Linked DNA regions of Homo sapiens: regions 1, 2 and 4 are each reported to be linked to region 3. Evidence: microRNA targets listed by miRTarBase, many of them from high-throughput screens and not tested one by one. Region 3 holds a microRNA gene; each other region holds the end of a gene's coding sequence. Distances are from middle to middle.

Region 1 (4,000 bases), not on the chromosome of region 3:
GGTTTTGAAATTGGCTTCCTTGTTTTATTTTATAAGCTATATGATGGCTTTAGTGTTCCCTACCTTATAAAGTGTGATTTGAAGCCTTGTCCCAACACTGTGGACTGCTTCATCTCCAAACCCACTGAGAAGACGATCTTCATCCTCTTCTTGGTCATCACCTCATGCTTGTGTATTGTGTTGAATTTCATTGAACTGAGTTTTTTGGTTCTCAAGTGCTTTATTAAGTGCTGTCTCCAAAAATATTTAAAAAAACCTCAAGTCCTCAGTGTGTGAGTGCCACAGCCTCAGATATGTTGAATGTGGTAGGAGAGGGACCCCTCCCCTACTCCAGAATCTTCACACTTGGCCATAAACACACTCCCTCTACCTGAAGCAAAGCTACTCTGTGACACACAAGAGGGTTAAACAAAGAAAACCTGCATCCCTCCTCAGCAAGGCCTAAGCTGAGTTGGAAGACAAAGCACATCAGCCTTAGTATCATTTGGGAGGAATTTTTTTACATTGTCAATATGCTTTCAGTTATGAGCTCTAGACAGAGGTCTCATTGTTTTGTTGTAGGGTTCTCCAGTATGTGGATAACATTAGTTGTTTTAGAATAGGTAATTGCAAATTAGTCTGAAGAAATCTAACAGGATTCTTTTAAGAGCTTAGATTTTTCAGGGAAAAAAAAAAAAAAAGAAACCCTGTGTCAGTTTTCTGTTTTTTCTAACTATCTCATTACAATTGGTGCACAATGAACTGGAAAATATAAAAAGTGACACTTTAGGCAAATGTGATGGCCTCCGAGCTGAAATGAAGGAACTGGCAATCTTTCCAAAGTGGCAGCCAAGGCCCCACTCCCTGTCCTACTCAATCTCTGCAGGGAAAAACTGTGGGATAGGATAGCAGCCAGCTGGGGACACACAGAGGAACATTCAACAGGAAGGTCCCGCCTAGGGAAAAGGCCACAGAGCCCAGGCCTCTTGCCGATTCAGGGATCCTTGGATATAAGTGGATTAGAGGAGAGGGAGGAAAGCTATCATTTCAGTGGTCTCCAAATCAAGTAGAAATATTACTGGGAGGTATCCCACTTAAGCCTGAACCAGCAGACATCCGAAAGGGTCACTCTAGAGTCAGAAAGGAAAGCAGGTCCCCCAGAAGGCAACACATTGATAGGAAGTGGAGGCCACAGAAAAAGAATGTGCCCACTTGATAATTACTTAAGACTTCTATTTAACCAAAAGAACATTGAAATACTTTGTAAATATTCATATTGTTGAACCTTTCATAATCAGGAATTCACTATGTACTATACTGTAAGTCATAGTTCGCCTATAATTTACTAGTATATCTCCCTCTAGGACAGATAGTAAAATGTGTACTATGTTGTTACAGTGGTGCAAAAATGTTTTAAAAGTTTATCACTTGTTTTGAAGACTAGAACTTTCTTTACTTTTCTATATTTTCTTAGCAATTCACAGATATGTTCTCTTTGGATTTAGTACTTTAACATATGTACATTTCTTCAGAATAAAAATAAGGGTATTTCACAATGCTCTTTGGCTGTCATTGGTATCTTTGCTAGACTGCAGTAGGTATGATTACTATGTGAAATAAAACATGTTCTGACAACTTTAGAACAGGATTTGCAACACTGCTTGGCTAAGAAATTATTCTTCTCCCTCAAGAATTTAACAGAAAATCAGGGCATAAAAATGTAATTTTAACAAAAACCAATTATGTCTTCCATACCTTGCCCTCTTTAGAATATAATCTCATTACAAGTCATGCGCAATGAAGGTTATTTGGGTCATTACGTGGTCTACAGACCATGTCAGCAGCAGCGGTCATTATTTCTATCTTAAAGACTGTGTTCTAGACAACAGAGAGAGAGGTGAAATTTGTGGTTTACCCCTTTCTTCAATTTATACCACAGATCACTGCTGGACTTGAGCTTACAAACATGTACTTTATCATTGAATATGAAAACATCTAGCCTGCATGAATGCAGGTAATCATGAATTTTGTGTGTGTATGTGTGACAATAATAGATGGTTAAAAAAAATTTAAGGTTTTTGAGACCCTGATCACAGCACAGAATCTAGAAAACAGGGTTTCAGAATGCAGAACTGGAATGGAAATAAGGGGCTTTGTCAGTCTGAGGAAGAGTTTGATGCCAAAAATGTTTTGGGGGAGCTCATCCTCTTCATATCAGTTATGGCAAGTTCTGCCTAAGCAAAAAAGTCCAACTGCTTGGCCATATATTCTTTGCATTTCCACTTTGTATAGAAGAAACTGAAAGGTAATGTGAGCAAGGGCAATGGCATTGAAGATGTTTAAATAGGAAGGTGAGTGATTTTCGTTCCTTGAGTCTTGCTGGTAGTGCCTTAATTTACAAAGTGAGTTTCCTATGAGAACATTCTGATGGCTTTCTTGGGGTCAGTGAGGACCCAAAGTATTTGATTGAGAGAAATTGGCAGTTAATTTGTACCATATTGTTTCTCTTATTGGTAAATTAATATTGATTGAGCACCTGGGAGCAAGACACTGTGCTATGTACATCCCAAGATTTAATGCATAATTCCTGCTCAAGAAAATGTCCACTTCTGTTAAGGCTCATGGAGGGTGAAGTATCTTAAACCTGTGTCCTGGTCTCACTGGCCCACCTCAACTGTTCTACTCCGAAACCTTCTGGTGTCCACAGAGCAGACAGTAACCTTGGAGATGGGGAAAAAGCAGTCACTTTTCTTCAGGGACATGCAACTAGTACAGGCAGACTGAACAATCAACCATAGGTCTTCCCAGATCACTAAACAGAGGTCTCCCTAATTTCATTTAAGCCACTCCCAGCTTGCAGTGATTATTCCGACTGCTCTGCACTTGTCCCATACTCTTTCTAGTTACAGACCTTGTTCCTGGCCACAGGAGTTCTCATTAGAGCTGGCAGGAAATGTTTTCAAGCACTTGTACAAAAGAATGCCCAGAGCTCTAAGTGGCTGTGGTTCCAGTCTTCCCAGTGGAATGAAGCCAATCTAGAAAAAAGACTGTGAAGATGAGAGAGGAGAGGGAAAAAGGCAAAGACTTGAGGATGTTTGAACTCCTCAATCCCATTGTCCCTGAGTCTGGCTCTACCCCTAATCTTTCGGTGGTTAGTTACATGAAAGATAAATTCCTTTTTGCTTAAGCTGGTTCAAGTTGGATTTCTGTGTCTTGTAACTGAGAGTCCCAATAAAGCCACCTTCTTCATAACTTTCTTTCCTGTATAATACAAAATTTTAATAATTTAAAAGCCTATAGTGCCCTGCCTCTCCTTATTCTAGCTCATATCCCATCACATACATGTAACACTTTTCTTAAACACTGATGTCGATTTATTCCTAGTTTATTTTGTTTGTATATTTAACACTGCACAGAGCACAAAAGTGAGGAGCACTTCATAGCTCTTTAAAAGACTGATTAGAGGGCAAGTGCAGTGGCTCATGCCTGTATTTCCAGAACTTTGGGAGGCCAAGGCAGGAGGATCCCTTGAGTTTAGGAATTCAAACTTGAGGTGGGCTATGATCGCGCCACTGCATCCAGCCTGGGTGACAGAGCAAGACCCCGTCTTTTTTTTTTTTTTTTTTTTTTCGAAATGTAGTCTTGCTCTGTCCCCCAGAGTGAAGTGCAGTGGCATGATCTCAGCTCACTGCAACCTCCGTCTCCCAGGTTCAAGCAATTCTCCTGCCTCAGCCTCTCGAGTAGCCAGGATTATAGATGCCCACCAACATACCCGGCTAACTTTTGTATTTTTAGTAGAGACGGGGTTTGCCATGTTGGCCAGGCTGGTCTCGAACTCCTGACCTCAGGTGATCCACCCGCCTCAGCCTCCCAAAGTGCTGGCATTACAGGCCTGAGCCACCACGCCTGGACAAGACCCTGTATTAAACAAAACAAAAAAACTAATGAGGAAAGAAAGAAGCAGTGGTGGAGCACGTAGAGGCAAAACATGTCAGAATTCAATTGAATTTTTATGACAAAA
Region 2 (4,000 bases), not on the chromosome of region 3:
AAATAGGTATTCCCTTTACATTTATATTGTACCTTTTTGTTGTACTTAAAAAAAAATTGTTATTTGAAGCCACTTAATAAGGTATAATCAAAATATATGTGCTTGGTTTGAAGGTTTTTATGAACTTGAGTTTTCCTTGTTTCAGATTTAGTGGAGTTTAACTTGGGTAGTCCCAAGAATGTGGGTCCCTTCCTTGCAGTGGACCAGAAGCACAACATCCTGCTCAAATACCGCTGCCATGGTCCACCCATCCGCTTCACGACTGTCTTTAGCAATGAGCTCCATTATGTGGCGAATGAGCTGAATGGCATTGTGGGAGGGAAGAACACAGTGGTTGCCATAGCTGTATGGTCTCACTTCAGCACCTTCCCTTTGGAAGTGTACATCCGGCGGCTCAGGAACATCCGTCGAGCAGTGGTTCGGCTCCTCGATCGAAGCCCAAAGACCGTGGTGGTCATCCGGACGGCCAACGCCCAAGAGCTGGGACCTGAGGTGAGCCTTTTCAACAGCGACTGGTACAACTTTCAGCTGGACACCATCCTTCGGAGGATGTTCTCAGGGGTTGGAGTATATCTCGTCGATGCCTGGGAGATGACCCTGGCCCATTATCTACCGCACAAGCTGCATCCAGATGAAGTTATTGTGAAGAACCAGCTGGACATGTTCTTGTCCTTTGTGTGCCCCTTGGAAACCTAGCCTGTCTTGGAAGGGACTGGAGGAATCATATTCAATGACCTTCTCAATTGACCTGAGTTACAGAAAGTGGCCCCAGTGAGAGATGACTGCCCTTAATAAGTATAAAATTTCAAAAAGATCTGGACTTAATATGATGACTTATAAGGAGCTTAGAAAATGCAGGTTACATTTATATCTACCTATAGGATTTTATCCAATGTTGACTTAGCCATGGTAGAACTCTTAACTGCATCTACACACTATATTGCTCTTGTAACCAAAGATGCTAATGAGTGTATTTGAATTAGCTTCTCCTAGGAGGGGTGACTACTTTGCTAAAGAGTATGAAAAATGTTTTGATGGAAGGGACAAGTTTGGTTGGTAGTAGAGTGTTTGTAGCTTATCTGGTAAAGGAAATTGAGTGCATCTGCATGCATAGCACAAGTAATCCATCTTCTGGCGGTTAACTAGAGAAAGCTTATAGTCAGAGGCTCTTGTGAATGCACTGAAGACTGCTGTGTCTCAGGAGTTTCTCTTGATGATCTACCTTTTCTGAATTACTTGAAAAGGCCAATGTGCTTGGTTCGAGTTTTTTAGTGAATATTTACAATTTCCTGCTTTTATCTAGAAAAGAAGCAAAAGGGAAATATGAAAGCAGTATATATAAAATCTGTGCTTTGGAATTGATATTTGCATTTGGTGATTGTTTTTTATTTGATTCAGCTAAATTTTATGTGTTGAATACTTACTCTAGAATAACTACTTTTGGAACTGGAAGGGGGAAATCTGTAAATGGAAATTTATTTTTATGTTCTGAAATTTGAGGGTTTAGGAATTGACTTTTGTGTAAAGAATGCTACGATATTATAAAGCTGTGGAAGTTTTTTCCACTAGTTTCAGGTGTTTTTTTTTTTGTTGTTGTTGTTGTTATTTTGAACTACTTACCAAAATTAGAAGTTAAAATCTAATTAGAAATTAATAAGATACTAAAATTCATGACAGTTTTTTGTTTGTTTGTTTGTTTGTTTTTTGGTATTTCTTGATTTGGGCATAAAAGGCACACCCATTCTCTCATGCTTGGAAGAAGCTGCTATTCCTACTGGCTATCTAAGAAGAATGGAATTATTAATTTTATTTGACTTATTAATTTTAAACGAGTTTAATTTGGGATCATTTAGTAAGTACTCTTTTCTTTTTGAGCTGTGATAGATTATAGTCTAGTTTAAGTTGCTCCTAAGTAGACAGATGAAGAAACTAGGGAGGCTTTAGAGAGGAAGACAGATGCTTGAAGTATGAACAATATATACCCTTAGAAGAATGGGTCAAATAATTTGGGTTTTTAATTTAAAATAGGAGGGCCCCAGATCTTACTTTCCTGTCCTTGAGGAACACCTTCAAGTTTTTAAAGTATTTTAGGGGGAAAGAAGATTTTTAATTGTTTCTGAGCCTAATGAGGTAATAAAATATATTAAAATAGTTTAATTTTAATGGTCCTTACGCTTTACAGTACCTAAGGATCACTTGTAGTATCTGACAAAAATGCAGAATTAAAGAGTCATGGCAGGGTGTGGTAGCTCAAGCCTGTAATCCCAGCACTTTGGGAGGCCAGGCAGGAGGATTGCTTGAGGCCAGGAGTTTGAGACCAGCCTGGGCAACATAGTAAGACCTCATCTCTACAAAAAATAAAAAATTATCCAGGTGTGGGCCGACAGTCCCAGCTACTAGGGAGGCTAAGGCAGGGTGATTGATTGAGCCCAGTAGTTTGAGGCTGCAGTGAGTTATGATTGCGCCACTACACTCCCACTTGGGCAACAGACAAGAGATCTTATCTCTAAAAAATTTTTGTTAAATAATAAAAGAATTAAGGCCAGGGATGTTGGCTCACATCTGTAATCCCAGCAGGGATTATAGTCTCGGGAGGCTGAGGTGGGCGGATTGCTTGAGCCCGGAAGGTCAAGACCAGCCTGGGTGCCATGGTGAAACCCCATCTCTACAAAAAAATACAAAAACTAGCTGGGTGTGGTGGCACCACCTGTAGTCCCCGCTACTTAGGAGGCTGAGGTGGGAGGATTGCTTGAGCCCAGGAGGCAGAAGGTTGCAGAGGTTGCAGTGAGCCTTGATTGTGCCACTGTACTCCAGTCTGGGCAACAGGGCAAGACCCTGTCTCTAAAAAAAAAAAAAAAAAAAAAAGAGGGACCATGATGCCTCTGGGATTTATGAAACCAACCTTTGTGGCGAGTGCTCAGTGATTCTGATGCAATGGTGGTATTCCACACTGTGAGAAACACTAAGAGAAGAGGTAAGATAGAATGAGGGAATAAACATGGCTTGTTTATTATTTTGGGGGATTTACCAATAACTGGTTTAATTCTGTTCATGATCCAATAGTATTGGTGATATTAGCTCCATTTTATAGATGAGGAACTCATGTTTAGATCTGAAATAAGGTATGTGAGAGTCCATATCTCTTTTCAGCTAAACTTGTGAGACTTTCGTAAAGAAGCGTTTGTATTTATTTATTTGTTTTTGAGACAGGGTCTTGCTCTTTTGCCCAGGCTGGAGTGCAGTGGCATGATATGGCTCACTGCAGCCTTGACTTCCTGGGCTCAAGGGATCCTTCTGCCTCAGCCTCCTGAGTAGCTGGGACTACAGGTATGTACCACCATGCCCAGCTAATTTTTGTATCTTTTTGTAGAGACTACATTTTGCCATGTTGTCCAGGCTGGTCTTAAACTCCTGAGCTCAAGCATCTGCCCACCTCAGCTTCCCAAAGTGCTGGGATTACAGGTGTGAGCCACTGTGCCCAGCTGAGAGTTTTTCTTGTCGTGAAAGAACTTGACATTTCCTCAAGGATTTATAAAGGAGGCTGAGGAGTAATTTTCCCAGGAGAATTTTAAAAAGAAAGCGGGCATTGCTCCTCCAGTGGTTTGGAATGATGCCACTTGATTGTGCAAATGATTTCTTATGATCTTGTCTGGTTTTCTGTTATTTTTTGATTTGGTGACATAGCTCTCAAAGATTTGGTGACACAGCTTCTTGAGTCACTTTCATCTCTCTTAAAAAAATTTTTTTTTTAACAACTTTTAAGTTCAGGGGTACATGTGCCAGTTTGTTTCATAGGTAAACTTACGTCATGGGGGTTTGTTGTATAGATGATTTCATCACCCAGGTGTTAAGCCTAGTACCCATTAGTAATTTTTCCTGATCCTCTCCCTCCTCCTACCCTCCACCCTCCAATAGACCCCAGTGTGTGTTGTTGCCCTTTATGTGTCCATGTGTTCTCATCATTTAGCTCTCACTTATCAGTGAGAACAACTTTCATCCC
Region 3 (4,152 bases):
ATATGTTCTGAGAAGTGTATTGTTAGGCGATTTTGTCATGTGAACTTCATAGAGTATATTAACACAAACCTCTCTAAATGGTATAGCCTATTACACACCTAGGCTACAAACCTGTACAGCATATGACTGTACTGAATACTGTAGGCAATTATAACAGAATGGTAAGTATTTGTGTACCTAAACATATATAAACATAGAAAAGCTACAGTAAAAATATGATATGATTTTGTGGTGGGACAACTGTGGGACAACTGTCATATATGAGGTTCATCATTGTCCTAAACATTGTTAGGCAGCACATGACTGTATAGACATAATAGAACTTATAGGAAAAGTTATAGAAAAACTTATAGAAAAAGACCTTGATGAAAAATACTGTCATATTCTTTGGATGAATGTTGCAATTAACTCCTTTTAGATCATAACTTGACTGTACAGATTGTGCAAGATTGTTTTCTGGGAACAGCTGTATATGAAATGTTGATTCTCAGGGAGACACCTAGACACCTGAATTGCAGCAGACATTTTATGGTGTTGCTAAGTTGCTGGTCCTTCTCATCAGTAGCAGGCCTACTCTCACTGTCACATATCTCCCACGGTTTTTTTTTTTTTTTTTTTTTTTTTTTTTGTAATTAACCAAAAGTGAAGGCTTTTATATCAAAGACTCAATTGAGGAAGCAGTGGCCTTAGTCATTATTGGCATAATTGCTTTAGTTTGCTTATGGATCTTAAAACGTTTATGACTATATCTGCAAGTAAAAAAAAAATTCAATAATTAAAAACCTAAACATATCGAGTGTTTATTTTCTCTTTTTGCAAAGGTATATTCTAAACTCAATGTTCTTCGGGAAATTTTCCAATTAAGGCTCTGAGTATTGATATTTGGGATTTAGAGAATGGCTTTCTATGACCAGAATGGTTAGTGATGAGATTTTATGTAAGTAGGACTGGGTTTTTCAGGGGGCCTTGTGTAACTTGCCATCAAGAGTTGGGAAAGGAGGCCCTGAGCAGTGCAGCAGAGCTATGTAAAGTGAGAGTTTGGGTCTTGGGACCAGGTAGCCTGGGCTCAAATCTGCTCTCACACTTAGCAATGTGGTCTTGAGCATGATTCTTCACTTCCCCAGGACTCTGTTTTCTCTTATGTAAAATAGGAATAATATTTATTTTCAATGATGGGGGTAAAAAGTACTTAAAGGGACTAATTATGTAAATTGCTTAGAACAGGCCTGGAATATACAGCTAAATGCTGTGTCAACTGTTGTTGCTGATAATGGTGTTGACTATGACAAGTATTAAAAGAAGAGATTTGACTAGAGGTACTTATATTTTGAATGATCAGTGACGATGTTAGGGTTGAGAAAGAAAAACAGTAACTGACTTGAAGGTTTTCAATGGTATGTAAGTGTGAGGTCATTTCACCTTTTATTTCTCTGCCAGGTAGAGTGGGAAACCAAATTAATCACTCCATGATCTAGTGACTAATCTATTGCCTTTGCTTTTAGTTCCAAATAGAAAGCTGTTGAAAAGTTGTTGTATTACACCTGCATAAAGGTTATCCTGAAAACAGAAAAATGCATTAGACTTTGTCAAAACTGGATTTGAAACCTAATTCAACTGCTTGCTGGCTGTGTGACTTAAACTTGTTGAACTTCAGTTTCTTCCTCTAATATAACTATTAATTTTCAGAGTTTCCATGAAGATATTTGTAAAGTGTTTGTCATAGGCACTCTATACATTAATTACAGCTATTATTGTTAGATCTTGGGACACCCAGCACGTGACAAAAACAACAGCAGACCCTGGTGCCTGGGAGGACTTCATGGATCCAGCAGCAACCTGGAGTGGTGCTCCTCTGAAGAAATCCTACTCGGATGGATATAATACAACCTGCTAAGTGTCCTAGCACTTAGCAGGTTGTATTATCATTGTCCGTGTCTATGGCTCTCGTCTACCAGACTTTAAATTCCTTAAGGGCAAGGACAGTGCCTTACTCATCTTTGTATTCACAGTGCCTAATCCGGTGCACATTGTAGGCCTCATTAAATGTTTGTTGAATGAAAAAATGAATCATCAACAGACATTAATTGGGCGCCTGCTCTGTGATCTCCATGGGCTCAGCTTGTCCCCGCCAGTTGCCAACAACGTCCAAGCTCTCTTCAGAATGCTTACTCCTGAAGCTTATTCCTGTCTTCTAATTCTTTTGTTGAGGACTTTTCTGTGTAGTGCAATGATAGCAAATACACTTCATCTCAAGTACCATCTCCAATTGATTGATAATGCCTGCCCTGATTATGTTTTATAACAAGATTCTGAAACCAGGTCTTATCTCAGTGTGAAAGACATTTATAACTATTTAGTGATGTCTGCTGAGGGTCGGAGAAGGGGGAGTAGCAGCACAAGTGCCTCATATGTCATATTTGCTACTCTGTTTTCTATGAAATACTTCATTTCTATGCCTGCATTTTGGTCTTAGCTACTTGCTGATGTTGCATGGCTGTTGCTGCTACTGTAATTGCTGCTAATTGCTCCCTGGGTTGGACCAGAGTGCTCATTGTCTGAACAGAAACCTCATCCTCACAGTCTGAGGTTTGCTCCTGTGGCTGATATTTAAAGTTTTCCCCTTTCAACTTTACTCCAGCTATCCCCTTACCTGCACTGACAGGTAATCCTCCACCGTCCTGTTCACCTCTCACCAGGTTCATATTTTCTTTATCTTATTTATTGTACTTAATCATTATTTTGTGAGAAGCTTTTCTGATTGTAGATGTGACAACCAGAATACAAGTTAAAACCACTTATCCAGCGCCTTACAGTGAATCATTTAACATGAGAAAAAAATTGAGTGTGTTTGCAGACCATGGGGCAGAAGGAATTGAGAAGGGAGTCATTGTAGATGTGAGAAAGAGAGAGATGATAATAGATGGAAGATGATCTTGAAAGATGATGCAGGTGAAGCTGGAAGGGTGAAATTTATGGCTCTAGAACACATGCAGGTGGAGGGTTAGCCTTAGGTAAGTGGAACTACCTCTTTGCTGGAGCACAGAGATAGGGATAGGAGTAAGGAAGAGGACTTGGCAAGGGTGGTGAAGATTTGTAATTGTAGAGGTGGATGATGGGGAGGAAGCTGACCAGGAACAGGAATATGAAGACAAAAGCTGCTGGAACAGAAATACTAGAGGGCTAAATATGAACCAGAGTCCCTAAGGAATATTCAGGCCAAAACGCTGGAGTGAGACCATTAACAGGAGAGCTTATGGTATATCAAAGTAAGAAATGAGTTTGAAACTGGGTTAGAAGCTCAGGAAAATATGAAGTGGTTTTGGGGCATTGTCACTAGCAGTATTTGGTTGCCTTGATTGATTGAGGGGTGGACAGCTAGCAAGAGACGAGTTACACAGAAATGGATTTAAGAATCCAAACTAAGGCCGGGCGCGGTGGCCCACACCTGTAATCACAGCACTTTGGAAGGCCAAGGTGGGCAGGTCACCTGAGGTCAGGAGTTCGAGACCAGCCTGACCAACATGGTGAAACCCTGTCTCTACTAAAAATGCAAAAATTAGCCAGGTGTGGTGGCACATGCCTGTAATCCCAGCTACTCAGGAGGCTGAGGCAGGAGAATCACTTGAACCCAGGAGGCGGAGGTTGCAGTGAGCCGAGATCCCACCCACTGTACTCCAGCCTGGGTAACAGAGTGAGACTTCATTTAAAAAAAAAAATCCAACCTGGACATGGAAGGAAGTAAGGTCAGGAGTGGCCTCAGTCTGGGCCAAAAAGAGGCTTTAATGTGAACAAGGTGAGTGCTGAGTAATTGGAAAACTGGAGTGATAGGACCTGTAATCAGAGTAGACTTTGGAGTGTTAGATTTCAAAACTGGAGTGGTTAAGATACCTGTGAAGCTAGGATGTCAGATGATCATTTACATGACTATTATAGTAACCCAGGATTATAGTAGAAGCTAGGCTTAGAATGAACACTGGGCCAGGTACAAAAGGCTTCAGTGACTGTGAGGAATGACTTGGAGGTTGGCACATGTTAACTGCAAATACTAGAGAAGAAAGGCTGTAGTGGGATAGTAGATGAGCCTTAGAAGAGTGGGGGGATCCAGGTGATTCCTTCTTTTATTGAGTATTTGCTCTATGCCTGACACCTTGC
Region 4 (4,000 bases), 62 Mb from region 3:
TGAGGGCAGTGGGCTACCACTTAAGGGTTTTAATGGGGGATCCTCGAAAATACTCCTATTGGAAATGTCTCTTGAACTTCTCAAAAATTCTTAAATCTTACTTTATTTGCATTTAGAACCAGGAACAGTTGAAAGATGATGATTCTGATCTTATTCTCAATGATGGTGACATCAGTTTGACATATGGAGATTCTACTGTGAACACTGAACCGGCCACATCCAGCGCCCCAAGGAGATTTATGGGAAACAGTTCTGAAGATGCCTTGGATCGGGAGCTTGCATTTGGGGACCATGAACTGGTCATTCGAGGAACACGCCTGGTTCTTCCAATGGATGATTCTGAACCCCCGCTAAATTTGTTAGATAATACGAGACATGGTCCAGCCTAAGCTTACTAATACTCACTTAGTGATTTGTAAAATTTGCACATGTGATTGTGAAGAAATTTGTACTACCTAAAAGTCCCAGTGCATGTCTCTGAATGTGTAAGCTATATAAATGCTATTTATATGGCATAGAAAGAATATAAATATCCTGTACACGGCAGATTGTGAACAAACTATATTCCTTTAAGTTTTCCTGGTTGCACTCTGTAGACTGGATCTGTTTTAGGAAGTTACTTTCACAGTGATGTTGTGTGTTCTGTTAGTTTTATGTCTCAGTTAAAGTGTAAAAAGTGACGGATTTTCTCTTTCTTAAACTTACCTGACACTTAACCAGAGTACCAGTTCTCGTGATGTGAATTAATTTTTTTGTGTGCTAGGGGAGGGAGAGTGAGGAGGGAGTGTTATTTCCTTGGGAACCTAGGGAGGAGAGGTTCCTTTGTTGGGAAACTTTTGTTGATAGCTGCTGCCTTTGTCCTGATCGTTTTCTTTCCCTTTTCTCTGGTGGCCTGTTGTGGTGCAACGAGCTGATGGCATTTGATCTTGCCCCATTCAGGTTGGGGAGTGAAGTGTGAGGACCCTTTTCCCCCGCTTGCTGTGAAAGCACAGATTCATTGACTACAGTACACTGTTGTTCAGAAAAGAAGGCTGCAAATGACTTCTGAGACTTTATGTCTTTTCTTCCAGACCAAGACCGTAGAAGGAGTCACATCTAGCCGGCTTAGCCAAAGTACAGGTGTATATAGTTCAGGGCACTTGATTTAGATTTGGAGGGGCTGGGGTGGGCAGAGAGCAAGAGGCGAGTAAAGAGAATGGTGGTTTCAGAGATCTCTCTTCCCAAATGTGTAAATATTCTATACCAGATAAGTTTAAATAAGAAATTTAATTGCTGCTTAATTTTTGATTATGTACTTTATCTGTATAGCAGGCTTTGTCGTCAGAAGTTTTTATATCGATTTAAATTGCTGCTCTTTAGCAGCCAAACAGGAGCAAAATGTAAAATTTTTGAACTTACTGTGTCTAATCATCATTTGTTAGTCTGTAGTTAATGTCAACAGTTAATTTATGAACCCACGATCGTTCCACACTGCACCAAAGTCAGTCATAAGAGAAATCGAATATTCTGGAGCACTGATTGCAGCAGGGTGGCTCCTTTGTGTGCAGCAGGTGTAGTAGTCTTCATTTTCATGGTACGTTTTAATATTAATTACCTAAGCTGCCATGCATTTTTTTTTTTACAGTTCTCAAGGAAGAGCACAGAACAATTTCTCATTTCATATTTGGAGTATGAAAGTAGATTCTATTTTGTAATGCTGATAATACCTAAAGATGCATTGAATGCTTGGAAGAATGCTTTTTGATGTTGATTTTGACCTGTTCATGATTCAGAAGAAAAACAAACTTTTTTGGATTTTTTTTCCCTCAGGTCTGAGTAGCATTGCCTTAAATCTTATCCAGTTAGAACATTGATTTATTTACATGATGTTCAGATTTTCCAGTGAAAAATACCCTTCTGAACAAAACATGTACTTACTCTCCGAAAGGCATCTATCTGTGCTATTGCAAACACTCCTTGAGATTTTAGGGGAATTCTAATGTTGTACCCTTTCGTGGCAGCTTTGACTGTTGGCATAGCCATTTGTTATGTAGTGGTAGCGACTTTCCTGCTATGCAGGAATCCCTCCCATGACGTGTATGTTTTACATGATGTGTGCCTCTTCACGCAGTAAATAGTTTCTTGTTAATGTATGTTTGAGGAGTTTGAACGTCAGTGTCACTTACCCACAAAGTTATTCAAGTTGTAAAAGGTTATACAATAATTTAACAACTACCTTTTTTATTCTGTCGGGTTACTGACCTCACTTTATGTAAATACTTCGCATGACAAATTCAGTAACTCGTCTATTTCAGCATGCATAAGACTTTTCACTAGGGAAACTGATAAAGCTTGAGTCAACTAAATCTGCCTTCATACTTTATCAAGGGGAACCAAGCCTGCTGTGCTTACATCAGCATCTGGAAGACTTTCCTCTCCTCTAATCTGTGTACACATCTCCAAGCAAGGAAGAAAAAACAAACTCTGCTCAGACGCCTATGAAACACCTGAATGAACTTTGATGAAGTACAGTCTGAGTTACCATCATGCACAAGTAGAACTGCTCTTGGACTTGTTTTCCTGTTGTTTGTGGAACCTACGCGTTTGAATGGCTTGAACGTTGCATCTTTTAAAGTTATTTTTTAAGGTTTCTTGGCATTTATCCTAGTTGTCCGTGTTTGGCAATGTGCTGTTAAAGTAATAGACTTTTAATCTTTATGTATTTTTTGTTTTCTCTGGAGTACTTGGACAGATGTTATAGTGGTTTCTTTTAGGAAAATCTGTCATTAAAAAAGTTATAGCCTTGCAAATAACCACTCACAGTATTTGAGTCACAGTTTATTTTAGTGAGACGTAAAGAGTGCTGACTTCATTTATTTTTCTACCTATATACCTAGTGGAAAAGGGGAAGACTAATGTTTTCAAATAAACAAACAGAAACCTAACAGAACTTAACTTATGGGTTGGCAAATTTTTGGTGCTTATGTGTAAGGGTGGATGTATTTGCTTATGGTCACAATTGGACTCTTTAGGAAATATGACTCAAAGCTGTCAAATTCTATTACATTGATTTGTAGCCTGTTAGCTTAGTAATGGATAATGTTATAAAAATGCTGGTATGGGGAAAGAGAATTCTATATCCAGTTAGGTGGGAAGGCAGTTCCAAGTATATCCAGTTAGGTAGGAAGGCAGTTCCAAGTTTGGCTAAAAGCATGATCACACAAATACAAATAGTCCTCCTTCCAAGTTAAAGACACGTCTCTCTGTGCATGAGAAGTTTTATAGGCTAGAGTCTGCTGACTGCAAGTTTGTCTAGTCCAGCAATGGCACCAACCACACTGTCTGTTGTGTTTTCTTGTCATCCACTCCAGCTTCCTTGTTTATGGCCCAGTGAGAGACATTGGTGGGGGATGGTCCACACACAACAGGCTCTTTTCTTGAAGGAACCCATGTTTTCTAATTCCCTACACAAAACCCTACATTAGATCTGAGCAGGTACAGTTGTTAACCTGACCCAATGCAGGAGTATAATGAGATGAGAGTCCCCGACAGGACGTACGCCACACAGATGATGTAGTGTGAGGCTTGAAAATAAATTGGAAATGATAATAATAGTTCTCATTTTTGAGCCCTTCTTGGGTACTGGTCATGTGTATACAAGGCATTTTAAAATCTATAATCATGCATTGAGGGCACATTCTATCATCCTCAGTATACAGATGAAACTGAGGTGCAGAGAAGTCACACAGCGAGTAAGTGGCAGAGTCAGGACCCAAGTCAAGTCTGACTCCAAAGCCCAGATGCTTACTATTTTGCTGGCCCCAAAGGCAGGCTCTGCTGATTCATCCTGATTGTAACCAGAAGGATGAAGGGAATTGCAGAATTGCTTTCTAGCCTGCTGCCCCCGACCTGCTTGTCATCAGGCCAGGCTAAGGCATGAAGTCTCAGCTCTGTGCCTCCACTTGCTGCTGTGTTCTTGGCTGTCTTGTTGGCGTTCCCTGGTTGGGAGGGTCCTCGCATT

What was found. Region 3 holds the annotated microRNA hsa-miR-421 (AUCAACAGACAUUAAUUGGGCGC, at 2,070-2,092, shown strand). A microRNA usually pairs through its seed, bases 2 to 8, with sites in the 3' UTR of a target mRNA and lowers its output. Matches are read on the target gene's strand: a 7mer-m8 pairs with bases 2 to 8, a 7mer-A1 pairs with bases 2 to 7 and ends in A, and an 8mer does both.
Region 1: miRTarBase lists GJB7 as a target of hsa-miR-421. Seed matches in the 3' UTR shown: 7mer-A1 at 295-301 and 7mer-A1 at 1,257-1,263.
Region 2: miRTarBase lists NXPE3 as a target of hsa-miR-421. Seed matches in the 3' UTR shown: 7mer-A1 at 1,411-1,417.
Region 4: the mRNA of SLC9A6 is a reported target of hsa-miR-421. The part of its 3' UTR that is shown has no 7-base or 8-base seed match.

What each region holds. Positions count from the first base shown.
Region 1 is chr6:87,280,517-87,284,516 of GRCh38, reverse strand. It overlaps GJB7 (gap junction protein beta 7), which reads left to right. Exons shown (of 3, transcript NM_198568.3): 3 at 1-1,537. The coding sequence ends at 276. LOC124901356 (a long non-coding RNA gene) reads right to left here and starts at 3,581. Exons shown (of 2, transcript XR_007059667.1): 1 at 2,891-3,581.
Region 2 is chr3:101,821,259-101,825,258 of GRCh38, forward strand. NXPE3 (neurexophilin and PC-esterase domain family member 3) reads left to right here. Exons shown (of 8, transcript NM_145037.4): 8 at 146-4,000. The coding sequence ends at 696. Among named protein-coding and RNA genes, the nearest start is that of NFKBIZ, 26 kb to the right of the region's middle.
Region 3 is chrX:74,216,332-74,220,483 of GRCh38, reverse strand. It overlaps MIR421 (microRNA 421), which reads left to right and starts at 2,023; the gene lies at 2,023-2,107. All of the region lies in intron 5 of FTX (FTX transcript, XIST regulator), which reads left to right. MIR374B (microRNA 374b) reads left to right here and starts at 1,866; the gene lies at 1,866-1,937. It overlaps MIR374C (microRNA 374c), which reads right to left and starts at 1,935; the gene lies at 1,866-1,935.
Region 4 is chrX:136,044,336-136,048,335 of GRCh38, forward strand. SLC9A6 (solute carrier family 9 member A6) reads left to right here. Exons shown (of 18, transcript NM_001379110.1): 18 at 117-2,934. The coding sequence ends at 389. Among named protein-coding and RNA genes, the nearest start is that of SLC9A6, 61 kb to the left of the region's middle.